Linked DNA regions of Homo sapiens: region 2 is linked to region 1. Evidence: fine-mapped expression QTL. A gene starts in region 1. The other region holds a variant in brackets. All regions are shown on one strand. Distances are from middle to middle. Region 1 holds the start of PLP2 (proteolipid protein 2). Region 2 has its middle 18 kb from the start of SSX3.

Evidence for each region. PIP is the estimated chance that this variant, and not a neighbour inherited with it, causes the effect.
Region 2: its variant is the best candidate, but not a certain one, in a credible set for the expression of PLP2 in cerebellar hemisphere (GTEx, PIP 0.80).

What each region holds. Positions count from the first base shown.
Region 1 is chrX:49,168,816-49,174,191 of GRCh38, forward strand. It overlaps PLP2 (proteolipid protein 2), which reads left to right and starts at 3,083. Exons shown (of 5, transcript NM_002668.3): 1 at 3,083-3,281; 2 at 4,314-4,466; 3 at 4,573-4,668. The coding sequence starts at 3,186. RefSeq lists silencers at 2,960-3,059, 3,580-3,779.
Region 2 is chrX:48,336,513-48,341,888 of GRCh38, forward strand. It overlaps the pseudogene S100A11P9. Among named protein-coding and RNA genes, the nearest start is that of SSX3, 18 kb to the right of the region's middle. The variant A/G (reference allele first, on the strand shown) is at 3,333.

The DNA.
Region 1 (5,376 bases):
TTACATCTGTAATCCCAACACTTTGGGAGGCCAAGGCAGGCGGATCACCTGAGGTCAGGAGTTCGAGACCAGTCTGACCAATATGGAGAAACCCCATCTCTACTAAAAATACAAAATTAGCCTGGTGTGGTGGCACATGCCTGTAATCTCAGCTACTCAGGAGGCTGAGACAGAAGAATCGCTTGAACCCGGGAGGTGGAGGTTGCGGTGAGCCAAGATTGTGCCATTGTACTCCAGCCTGGGCAACAAGAGCAAAACTCCTTCTCAAAAAAAAAAAAAAAAAAAAAAGACAATTTCAGAGAGAAGTGAGAGTCATGAAGCTATGAAGCTAGCAAAAGGAGGTTACATTGTGGGAGATGATGGTGAGCTTCTGGCCTCTTTGAAGACATAACTCTTGAGCTGCAACCTGAATGACCAGAAGCCAGGTATATGAAGCACTGAGTGAAGGGCATTGACAGCAGGGGGAATAGCAAGTGCAAAGGTGTTGAAGTGGAACCAGGTTCATCTTGTTTCAGAAATTCAGACGTGTCCTCACAGAGTTGGAAAGCACATACTCATCACTAGGAAAAGTATGTTTCATCCCTTCCACTATTCACTCACTCTTCCGGCAACCGGGGCTGAAAGAGGGGAGCTCTTTCCTTAGTTTTGAGGGGCCCTGTGTTGGCAGAGAGAGCAGGCAGGCCCTTGGGTTGAATCCTCCTGGCCATCCAGTTATGATTCTCCCCCACTTCAAATGAGATGAGAATAAAAACAACTTCTAGTCTGGAGAGTGTGTCCCTCAGGGTACCTCTGGGATCCTGATTCCAGGAGACGAGATGCATGTCTTAGATGCAGAAATTAAGGCTGAGCTGGGGGAAATTACTTGCTCAAAATAACACACTTAGCCAGGCGCAGTGGCTCACGCCTGTAATCTCAGCACTTTGGGAGGCCAAGGCGGGAGAATTGCTTGAGGTCAGGAGTTCAAGACCAGCCTGAGCAACATAACGAGACCTTGTCTCTACTAAAAAATAAATAAATACAAACAAAGTGTCTACAAATGTCACCCAGCCTTGCACCCCAGGAGCCATCCATTCATCTTGCCAATCCCCCAGAAATAAACTTTCCTATTCCTCATGTACGATTGTGCTGACTGGCCCCTCTCTTCAGAACCAGGAAACTGAGGCCCAACATTTAGGGCCAGGACTTCCTTGGGATTGCAGAACACAGAATCAGACCTTGGGCTCTCTGGGCTCTAACACTACTACAAAATATGTTTTTTTAAAATAGAGACAAGCTCTCACTACGTTGCCCAGGCTGGTCTCGAACTCTTGAGCTGAAGTGATTCTCCTACCTCGGCCTCCCAAAGTGCTAGGATTACAGGCATGAGCCACTGCTCCTGGCCTTGGGCTCTAACACTTGAAACAATGCTTGCCCTATTTCTGAGCAACTCAATGCTCACCAACCCCTATTCTCACACAGCCTTTACACTGGCAGGGTCTTATTCTCATCACTGCTCAGAGGTTTATTCCACTGTCCACAATCCATTATCCAAAAACAAAAAGCTCTGGAAACTGATGGTTTTCCCACAAGATAGGCACTATTTGGTTACAAAACCTGACCTGATCTAACGAGGAACAATTTTCTTTCTTCCTTTCTTTTTGTTTTTCCTTTTTTGGAGACAGGGTCTTGCTCTGTTGCCCAGGCAGGAGTGCAGTGGTCTGATCATGGTTCACTGCAGCCTTGAACTCCCAGGCTCAAGCAATCCTCCCACCTCAGCCTCCCGAGTAGTTGGGATTACAGGCACGTGCCACCATGCCTGGGCTAATTTTTTTCTTTTTTCTTTTTTTTTTTTTTTTTTGAGACGGAGTCTTGCTCTGTCGCCCAGGCTGGAGTGCAGTGGCGCAATCTTGGCTCACTACAACCTCCACCTCCCAGGTTCAAGCGATTCTCCTGCCTCAGCCTCCTGACTAGCTGGGATTATAGGCGAGCGCCACCACACCCGGTTCATTTTTTGTGTATTTTTAGTAGAGACGGGGTTTCACCATGTTGGACAGGCTGGTCTCGAACTCCTGACCTCGTGATCTGCCCACCTCGGCCTCCCAAACTGCTGGGATTATAGGCTTGAGCCACCGCGTCCGGCCGCCTGGGCTAATTTTTAAAATTATTTGTAGAGATGAGGTCTCACTGTGTTGCCGAGGTTGATCTCCAACTCTTGGGCTCAAGCGATCCTCCCACCTGAGGCTCCCAGAGTGTTGGGATTACTGGCATGAGCCACTGCGCCCAGCCGAGGAACACTTTTCAATCCTTACCCAGTTATTGTGAACGTTCATACCTTTTCTTGAAGAAATACCGTTTTTGTTGTTGTTGTTGTTTTTGAGACGTAGTTTCGCTCTTGTTGCCCAGACTGGAGTGCAATGGCATGATCTTGGCTCACCGCAACCTCTGCCTCCCGGGTTCAAGCGATTCTCCTGCCTCAGCCTTCCGAGTAGCTGGGATTACAGGCATGCGTCACCGTGCCCAGCTAATTTTTGTATTTTTAGTAGAGACGGTGTTTCTCCATGTTGGTCAGGCTGGTCTCGAACTCCCGACCTCAGGTGATCCACCCGCCTCGGCCTCCCAGTGTTGGGATTACAGGCGTGAGCCACCGCGCCTGGCCCTTTTTTTTTTTTTTTGTAACGCGGCAGCTCCAAACCCCGCTGAGAGTATATGCATGGGAAAACTTTCTGAAATCAAAAATATTCCGAATTCTGGCAACATACTGGGCCCCAAGTCTTTCGGATTTAACTCTGCCTCGGCCGTTTTATTCAGTTAAGGAAACTGAGTCACTCCATCCCAAAGCCAGATTCCCGCGGTTCTAAGCTGAAGCTGTCTCGGGTGCATTTGCATTCCAAAAAGGCGAAGGGTCCCGCTATTACTGCTCCTGGTACCTGGAGCTGCCAAGCACCCCTGCGATGGGGCGCCCCGGGGGCTGTGCGCCAGGCTGGGAGTATCCTTGGGGGGCGGGGCGAGGGGGCTTCCGGGGCGGCAGCCACCTGGCCCGGCTCCGGCCCCGCCCGCGTCAGCTCTGCGCGGTGATTCACTCCCTCCTTCGCCCCGGGGCCCCCTTCCCGGCCAGACGGCGGGCAAGACAGCTGGGTGTACAGCGTCCTCGAAACCACGAGCAAGTGAGCAGATCCTCCGAGGCACCAGGGACTCCAGCCCATGCCATGGCGGATTCTGAGCGCCTCTCGGCTCCTGGCTGCTGGGCCGCCTGCACCAACTTCTCGCGCACTCGAAAGGGAATCCTCCTGTTTGCTGAGATTGTGAGCGTTCTGGGGCAGGCGCGTGGGCAAAAGCGGGATGGGGTGGCTGGACCATGCGGAACTGGATGGTCCGGGTGAGGCAGGCACTTGGCCGGGGCGCTCGGCAGTGGGGTGCAGGTGGGTGGGTTCACGGTGGAGGCCCGAAACCCGGGGCGCAGGGCGAGTCGGTGGGGTTTGACGAAGGTTGTTGAGATCTGGTGGTCCCCGGGGTGAAGCAAGGAGCCTATAACGCATACGGAGGGCTACGTGGGGACAGCCTGCGTGAACTCATCAGTGGACGCATCGAAGGGGTCCCAGGGTGCTGGGAAGTGGGGGCCTCCTGTGGCAGGGCGTGGCGCGGCCTGGGCACAGGAGGGCGGGCTGGCAGCGCGCCCAGGGGCAGGGCCTGTTGGGGTGGGGCCCCCCCGCCCCGCGCTAGTCCCGCGGTGTAGAGCGCCCCGCCCTTCGCCAGTTCTTCCTCGCCCTTCAGAGGCCGGGCGGGATGTCCTTAGCTTTTCGGGGTTTCCACCCTTCTCAAAGTGGGCGCCGCCTTTGAGTCACTTGTAAAAGGGGTGCGGCGCCTTTAACGGAGTCCTGCCTCTCTGGTGTCACTCTCACCGCTTCCCAAAGGGGTTGCTGGGGGAACCGCGTGTTCCGCCCCGGTCAAGGCCACAAAGCTGGCGTCAGCGGGGCTCACAAAACACCTGGCAGCGCCACTCCCCTCAGGCTGCCCGTAACCTAGAAGGGAAAAGAGGAAACTGAGGCACCCAACTCTACTCCTTACTTGTTGGGTGACCCTGGCCAAGCCATTAAACCTCTCTGTGCCTCAGTTTTCTCGTCTATAAATTAGAAAGAGTAATAATAGTACCCAGAGCATTAGATTGTCGTGATGATTGAATTTGGAACACAGTGAGCACATAAAAAGTGTTTAGCTATTATTGTATGTCATTTCCCCAGCCCTCGTAGGCATCTTAGTATGGGACCCCCAATTTAAACCAATCTTCTCAGCCCTGGTTGCTGATTGAGGTCCCCTTTCCCATGTCACCCTTCCAGATATTATGCCTGGTGATCCTGATCTGCTTCAGTGCCTCCACACCAGGCTACTCCTCCCTGTCGGTGATTGAGATGATCCTTGCTGCTATTTTCTTTGTTGTCTACATGTGTGACCTGCACACCAAGATACCATTCATCAACTGGCCCTGGAGTGTGAGAAGGGGTCCACAATGGCAAGACCAGGGAGGGGTCTGGGCAGTTAGGATTGTCGGGGAACTGTGGTTGCTGACTTCCCTCTTCTCCTCCCTACACCTCACAGGATTTCTTCCGAACCCTCATAGCGGCAATCCTCTACCTGATCACCTCCATTGTTGTCCTTGTTGAGAGAGGAAACCACTCCAAAATCGTCGCAGGGGTAAAGGCCATGGGAGCAGCTCTGAAGCACAGAGCGAAGGGTTTGAGGAGCCAGGGACCATTTCTGCCTTTGCTTCTGGCAGAAATCGTGTGACCCACAGCAAGTCACACTTGTCCTCAGACATGGAGGAAAGTCTGGCCCAGGACTTGGTTTTGCCTCCCAAGGTCTTCATTTGCTGTGAAGGGAAGTCCCTTGTCAGACACAAGGACCTTGGTGAGAGGTACAAACAGGCGGCCCCTTTGTCAATGCACTAGACTACCATCTGCAAGAACTTTGTCCCAAATGTAGTAGAAATTGGGGCCGGGCGCAGTGGCTCATGCCTGTATTCCCAGCACTTTGGGAGGCTGAGGCCGAGGCAGGCAGATCACTTGAGGTCAGGAGTTCAAGACCAGCCTGGCCAACATGGCGAAACCCCATCTCCACTAAAAATACAAAAATCAGCCGGGCATGGTGGTGGGCGCCTATAGTCCCAGCTACTCAGGAGGCTGAGGCAGGAGAATCACTTGAACCCAGAAGACAAAGGTTGCAGTGAGCCAAGATCATGCCACTCACTCCAGCCCCAGTGACAGATGGGTGACAGAGTGATACTGTGTCTCAAAAAAAAAAAAAGTATGACTTGAATTGTGCCCCCTACGGGTAGGGCCACAGTGTGGCCTCCCTGTGTTGAGAGGTATAGGAGGAGGGAGAGTGGGGTAGGATGCACTCTCT
Region 2 (5,376 bases), 830 kb before region 1:
AACTAGACCCCCGTTGCTAAAAAAAAAAAAAAAAAAAAAAAAGAAAGAAAGATAGAAAAGAGAAAAGAAGTATGGTTTTATAACTACCTGCAGGTAGGGCCTGCATGAGGCGGCGGGTGTACTTGAGAGAAGAGAAGAGGAAAGGAGGAGAGGAGAGGGGAGGGGAGGAAAGCAGGGGAGAAGGGCGAAGGGAGGGGGAGGAAGGGGAGGGAGGGGGAGCGGTGGAGCAGCATGGAGGAGGGAATGGTTTTATTACTACCTGCAGGCAGGGCCTGCATGAGGTGGTAATTGTGCTGGGCCCAGGGTATGTGTGGGCTGTGAGCAGATGGTGATGGTGAGGCTGGAAAGAAAGGGGTTGGCTTGGAAACCAGGCCCAGGGGATCCTCAGATCCGCTTCTTGGAATGGGCAGCCTTGAGAAAAGAGTCATGGTAAGCCACAGTCATGCCATCCATCAGATGCAGAAATTCTTGGAAATCTAGCTGCCCATCACTAGTGAGGTCCAGTTTCTTCATCATGTGGTCAAAGACACTGGGGCCCTCTGGTTCTTCATGAAGGCATCCAGTTCTGTATTCATGAAGCTTGGGAACTCCATCTTGGAGTGAGTGCTATTGTAACCATCCTTTCCAGCCTATTTCTGGAAAATAGCAATCAGGGACTCTCTGTAGGGCTGGAGACTTTTGCCATGTTGGAGTTGAATGAGGCACCAAGAGCAGGTTTTTACTGGACCTGTGTGAATAACCATATTGCCATAGGAATATTTACAAATAGTTTTTGAATTCTGGAGGAATTGAGTAGTAAGAAAAAGCAAACATTTCCATCTCAGTTTACAAAAGTATACTTCACAAAATTATTATAAACTATAGATAGTTTAACAGAGAAAATTTTCTCTTTGTTTTCATTTTTTTGAGAAAGGATTGTGCCCCGTTGCACAGGCTGGAGTGCAGTGGTGCAAACACGGCTCCCTGCAACCTCTGGGTCCCAACTCAAGTGATCCTCCCACCTCGGCCTCCCAAGTAGCTGGGATCACAGGCACATGCCACCATGCCCAGCTAATCTTTTTATTTTTGTTTTTGTTTTTTTAGAGACAGGATTTTGCCATGTTGCCCAATCTGGTCTTGAACTCCCGGGCTCAAGCGATCCTCCTGCCTTGGCTTCCAAAGTGAGCCACCACATCCCACCAGAAAATTTTCTTAAATGTGGAAAACAAAACATTTAGGTAAAAAACAAATAAAGTTTTATTTTCTTAATTTCTTTCAGAAACCGGGTCTCCTATATTTCCCAGGTTGGTCTTGAACTCCTGCACTCAAGAGATCCTCCTGTTCCGGCCTCCAAAAGTGCTGGGATCAGAGGTGTGAGCCACTGCACCTAGCCCAAGAATAAATAAAGTTTTAAATAAAGGTCATAAAAACATTATTGGTTATTTAGCCTCATATAATTAATGTTTGTTCTGCTTGATCTTGATAATCAGTTGCATGAACCCATCAGTTTTCATTAGAGTTTTCAAAAATTATTTATTTAGTTCATTGATCTGAAAGTTATTACAAATCTATATTCAACAGTACTTGTTAAAATATTTTTTAAGAATCTGATTCTGGATGCCTTTAGAGAAGAATCAGCACTGTAGATGATAAAGCTTAGAATAGTAGCGATGAAAATCTGACGAAAGTTCAATAATTGACAAGAAAATTCAGTTATTTCTATTATAGAGAGCATTTTAAGATAACAACCAGAATCATGACTAATAGCATCACACCAGGACCATCAGACCTCTGTAAATTTTACATGATCTTCTGAACATTAACGTCAATAACATATCTATGTAAATGTAAACAGCGATTAGTATTTTTTATTATTTGACATTGCTTTTCATATAATCTAACATATCAAATAAGCCTAATGAGAGACACATTCTTTGAGGCTCTCCAGGGGCCTCACTGGTAAATCTCAAAGTCAATTTTAGGTTAAAAAGACTTAAATTAGAGTTTGATTAGTTTGTTCAACAGCAGTAGTTAAATTAAAAAAGAATTGCATTTTGGGGAAGTTTGTCAAAGATGTTAAAAGGCTCAAAACACTTGTGCAAAACAGGATCATGGGTCACTGTGGAAATAATAGTCACTCATTTAACCAGAGTGATAGTCCACAGACTTCAAAAGCAATACAGAAAGTTACACGGACTTAAAAACTTACCCTTTCAAAGCTCAGTTTTCCTAAGCAAGAAGAAACCTAATTAGTAGGCCGGGCGTGTTGGCTCACGCCTGGAATCCCAGCACCTTGGGAGGCCGAGGCGGACAGATCACTTGAGGCCAGGAGTTCAAGACCAGGCTGAGCGACATGGCAAAACCCCTTTTCTACTAAAAGGACAAAATATTAGCTGGGTGTCGTGGCCCACGCCTGTGGTCCCAGCTACAGGAGGCAAAAGAATTGCTTGAACCCGGGAGACAAAGGTTGCAGTGAGCCAAGATCCCGCCCATTGCATTCCAGCCTGGGCGACAGAGAGAGACTCCATCTCAAAACAAAACCCTAGGATCAACAGAAAGGAATGCCTGGGTTAAGATAAAGGATTGTGGAGACCCAAGTTCTTATTTGCAGAGGAAGCCTTCAGGTACTAGGCTTCAGAGAGACTAGGTTGTAACATGTTTCTTATTAGACTGAAAGTCTGTGTTGATGTTGATGCCAGAGAGGTATAATGAGGCATGCCTGACCCCCACTTCCTGTCATGGCCTGAAACCATCTCTCAGGTTAAATTTTAAAAGAGCCCTGGCTGAGGAAGAAGTCCATTCAAATGGTTGTGGGTTGGCGGGGGATAGGATTTTATTTTTGATCTACAAGTTCTGTAAGATAAAAGTGCATACATTTTAAGGAACAAGTCTGCTGCCTGATGTATGGACCACACAAAAAGTTCACCAAACTGTCCAATGCCATAACCGGAGACATTCGAACGACAAATCAGGATGAGAAGTTGACGTTTCCACACTATAGACAGCTTTTCCCAAGACGTCAGAATAAGTCTTCATATCGTAATGAGACTCTTACCCCCTGAATGTCTACATTTTTCACTTGACAGAACCCGACGCCCAAATCCTTTACCTCACCTAGTGGTCCCTTTAGAGTTGGCACTCTGCTTTAATTCAACCCAGTCCTCAAATGCTACTCAAAGACTACAAGAGGTCTCATTCAATTCCCCCATAGCTTTTTGATTTGTTTAGCTGGTGGCCCTTAGGCTTGGGATCTTGGTTCAAAACCATTGTACAAACTAAATTTATTATACTATTGCTAATTATAGCTGGGTGTGGTGGCTCACGCCTGTAATCCCAGCACTTTGGGATGCCAA[A/G]GAGGGGGGATCATTTGAGGTCAGGAGTTCGAGACCAGCCTGGCCAACATGGTGAAACCCTGTCTCTACTGAAAAGACAAAAATAAGTCAGTCATGTTGGTGGGCACCTGTAATCCCAGCTACTGGGGAGGCTGAGGCAGGAGAATCGCTTGAACCCGGGAGATGTAGGTTGCAGTGAGCCGGGATCACGCCACTGCACTTCAGGCTGGGCGACAGAGCAAGAATCCATTGCAATAAAATAAAATAAATAAAATAAAATAAAATAAAATAAAATAAAATAAAATAAAATAAAATAAAGTAAAATAATAAAATAAATAAAATAAAATAAAATAAACAATTGCTAATTATTTTAGAATTATGATCTTTGAGCTCCATACTTGTTGCCTAATATTTGTTAAGCCAGTTCTCCCAAGAAAATAATGTTATCCCAGTGCATCAAGATGATTGCTAATATAGATGGGACTAACAAGATGGAACTTGATGCTGAACTCCAGGCAAACCTGCCTGAAATTTTTTTTCCTTCTGTCCTCTTTGTTGCTCAAATATGGCCCATGTCCCTGATCTAGACTCCCTTACCTTTCCCTTGACATGGGATAAAGACAACCGGCACAGGTCCATCCTGGCATGGAGTGACAATGAAGCCTCACTTTAAGATGGCTGATCGGTGAGGTTTTGAAAGAAAGATGTTGATCAAAAGAGGGAATGTGAAAGCTGATTGTGCGAATGAACCAGCTTCTCCAGGGCCAATGAGACTCATTTCAAAACAATATGTAACATTTTTCTTTCTAATAAAATTTCCAACTTCTGTTTGTTCGTTGGACATAATGAAGACCACCCTAGTCCGTGTATATGCCCTGAATTGCAATTTTGTGATTCCCAAATACAGCATTTGATTTAGGGATTTGTCTCTATAATTTATTTTGACTTTGACACAATTAACCAGTATGATGTGCTTAAAGGTTGCCCCACCCCCTGACAGGGTGAGTATTATACTGAATTTAAAAATTCTTTCTAGGTAGGGCATGGTGGCTCACATCTGTAATCCTAACACTTTGGGAAGCCGAGGTGGGTGGATCACCTAGGGTGAGGAGTTGAAGACCAGCCTGGCTAAAATGGTGAAATCCCATCTCTAAAAAAATACCAAATTAGCTGGGCGTAGTGGCACATGCCTGTAATCCCAGCTACTCAGGAGGCTGAGGCAGGAGAATTGCTTGAACTTAGGAAACAGAGGTTACAGTGAGCCGACATCGCACCATTGCACTCCAGCCTGGGCAACAAGAGCGAAACTCCATCCCGAAAAATAAAAAATCATTCTATTACAATCTTGATAATTGCTTAGCTTTGCATCTTACTATGGACTTGTTGGATATCTAGGTAGCTGCAAACTATGCAGAGAAAGATAGAAACAGCAGTGGAGATAATTAGAAAATTGTAGTGTTCCTATAAAACAATTAACAAAAGGGGGAAATTGTAAGGGTAACTAAACATAAAATTGAATTTTTCCTGTTGCCAAGAGAGAAGAAGAAACCTGTCTCCATTTCACTTTCCTTAGAGCATTTCCTTTAGAAATTTTGTATTTGTAAATTCTTCCTTTGATACGTAAGCCTCTGGCCATCCTAGAACCCAGGAATGTCTTGAACTTGAACTCCAGGCCTCAAGTGATCCTCCAGCCTCAGCCTCCAAAAGTGTTGGGATTACAGGCATGAGCCACCATGCCCGTCCCTTAGGAATGTCTTTCTTCAGGGCCTTGGTGCCATCTCTTTGAAATGTGAACATTGAGGAAGATGATGTCCTTATCTCCCTGTCACCAGGGGAGTTTAGCCTAGGTGCCTCGCTCCAAGCTGTAAGCACCTGGTTGTCATAGAGACATGAGTTTTATTTTTCCTTCAGATAAAGGCAATTAACTAACACAGATGGGTACTCCAATTACTTGGTGAACTTAGGACTTGCCTGGGAGCATTTAGTGTTCACCCTTGGCTGCTGCCGTACAGCCAGGCCAATTACCAACATATCTGGACTTTCTGATTTCTGCTACCACTTTTTA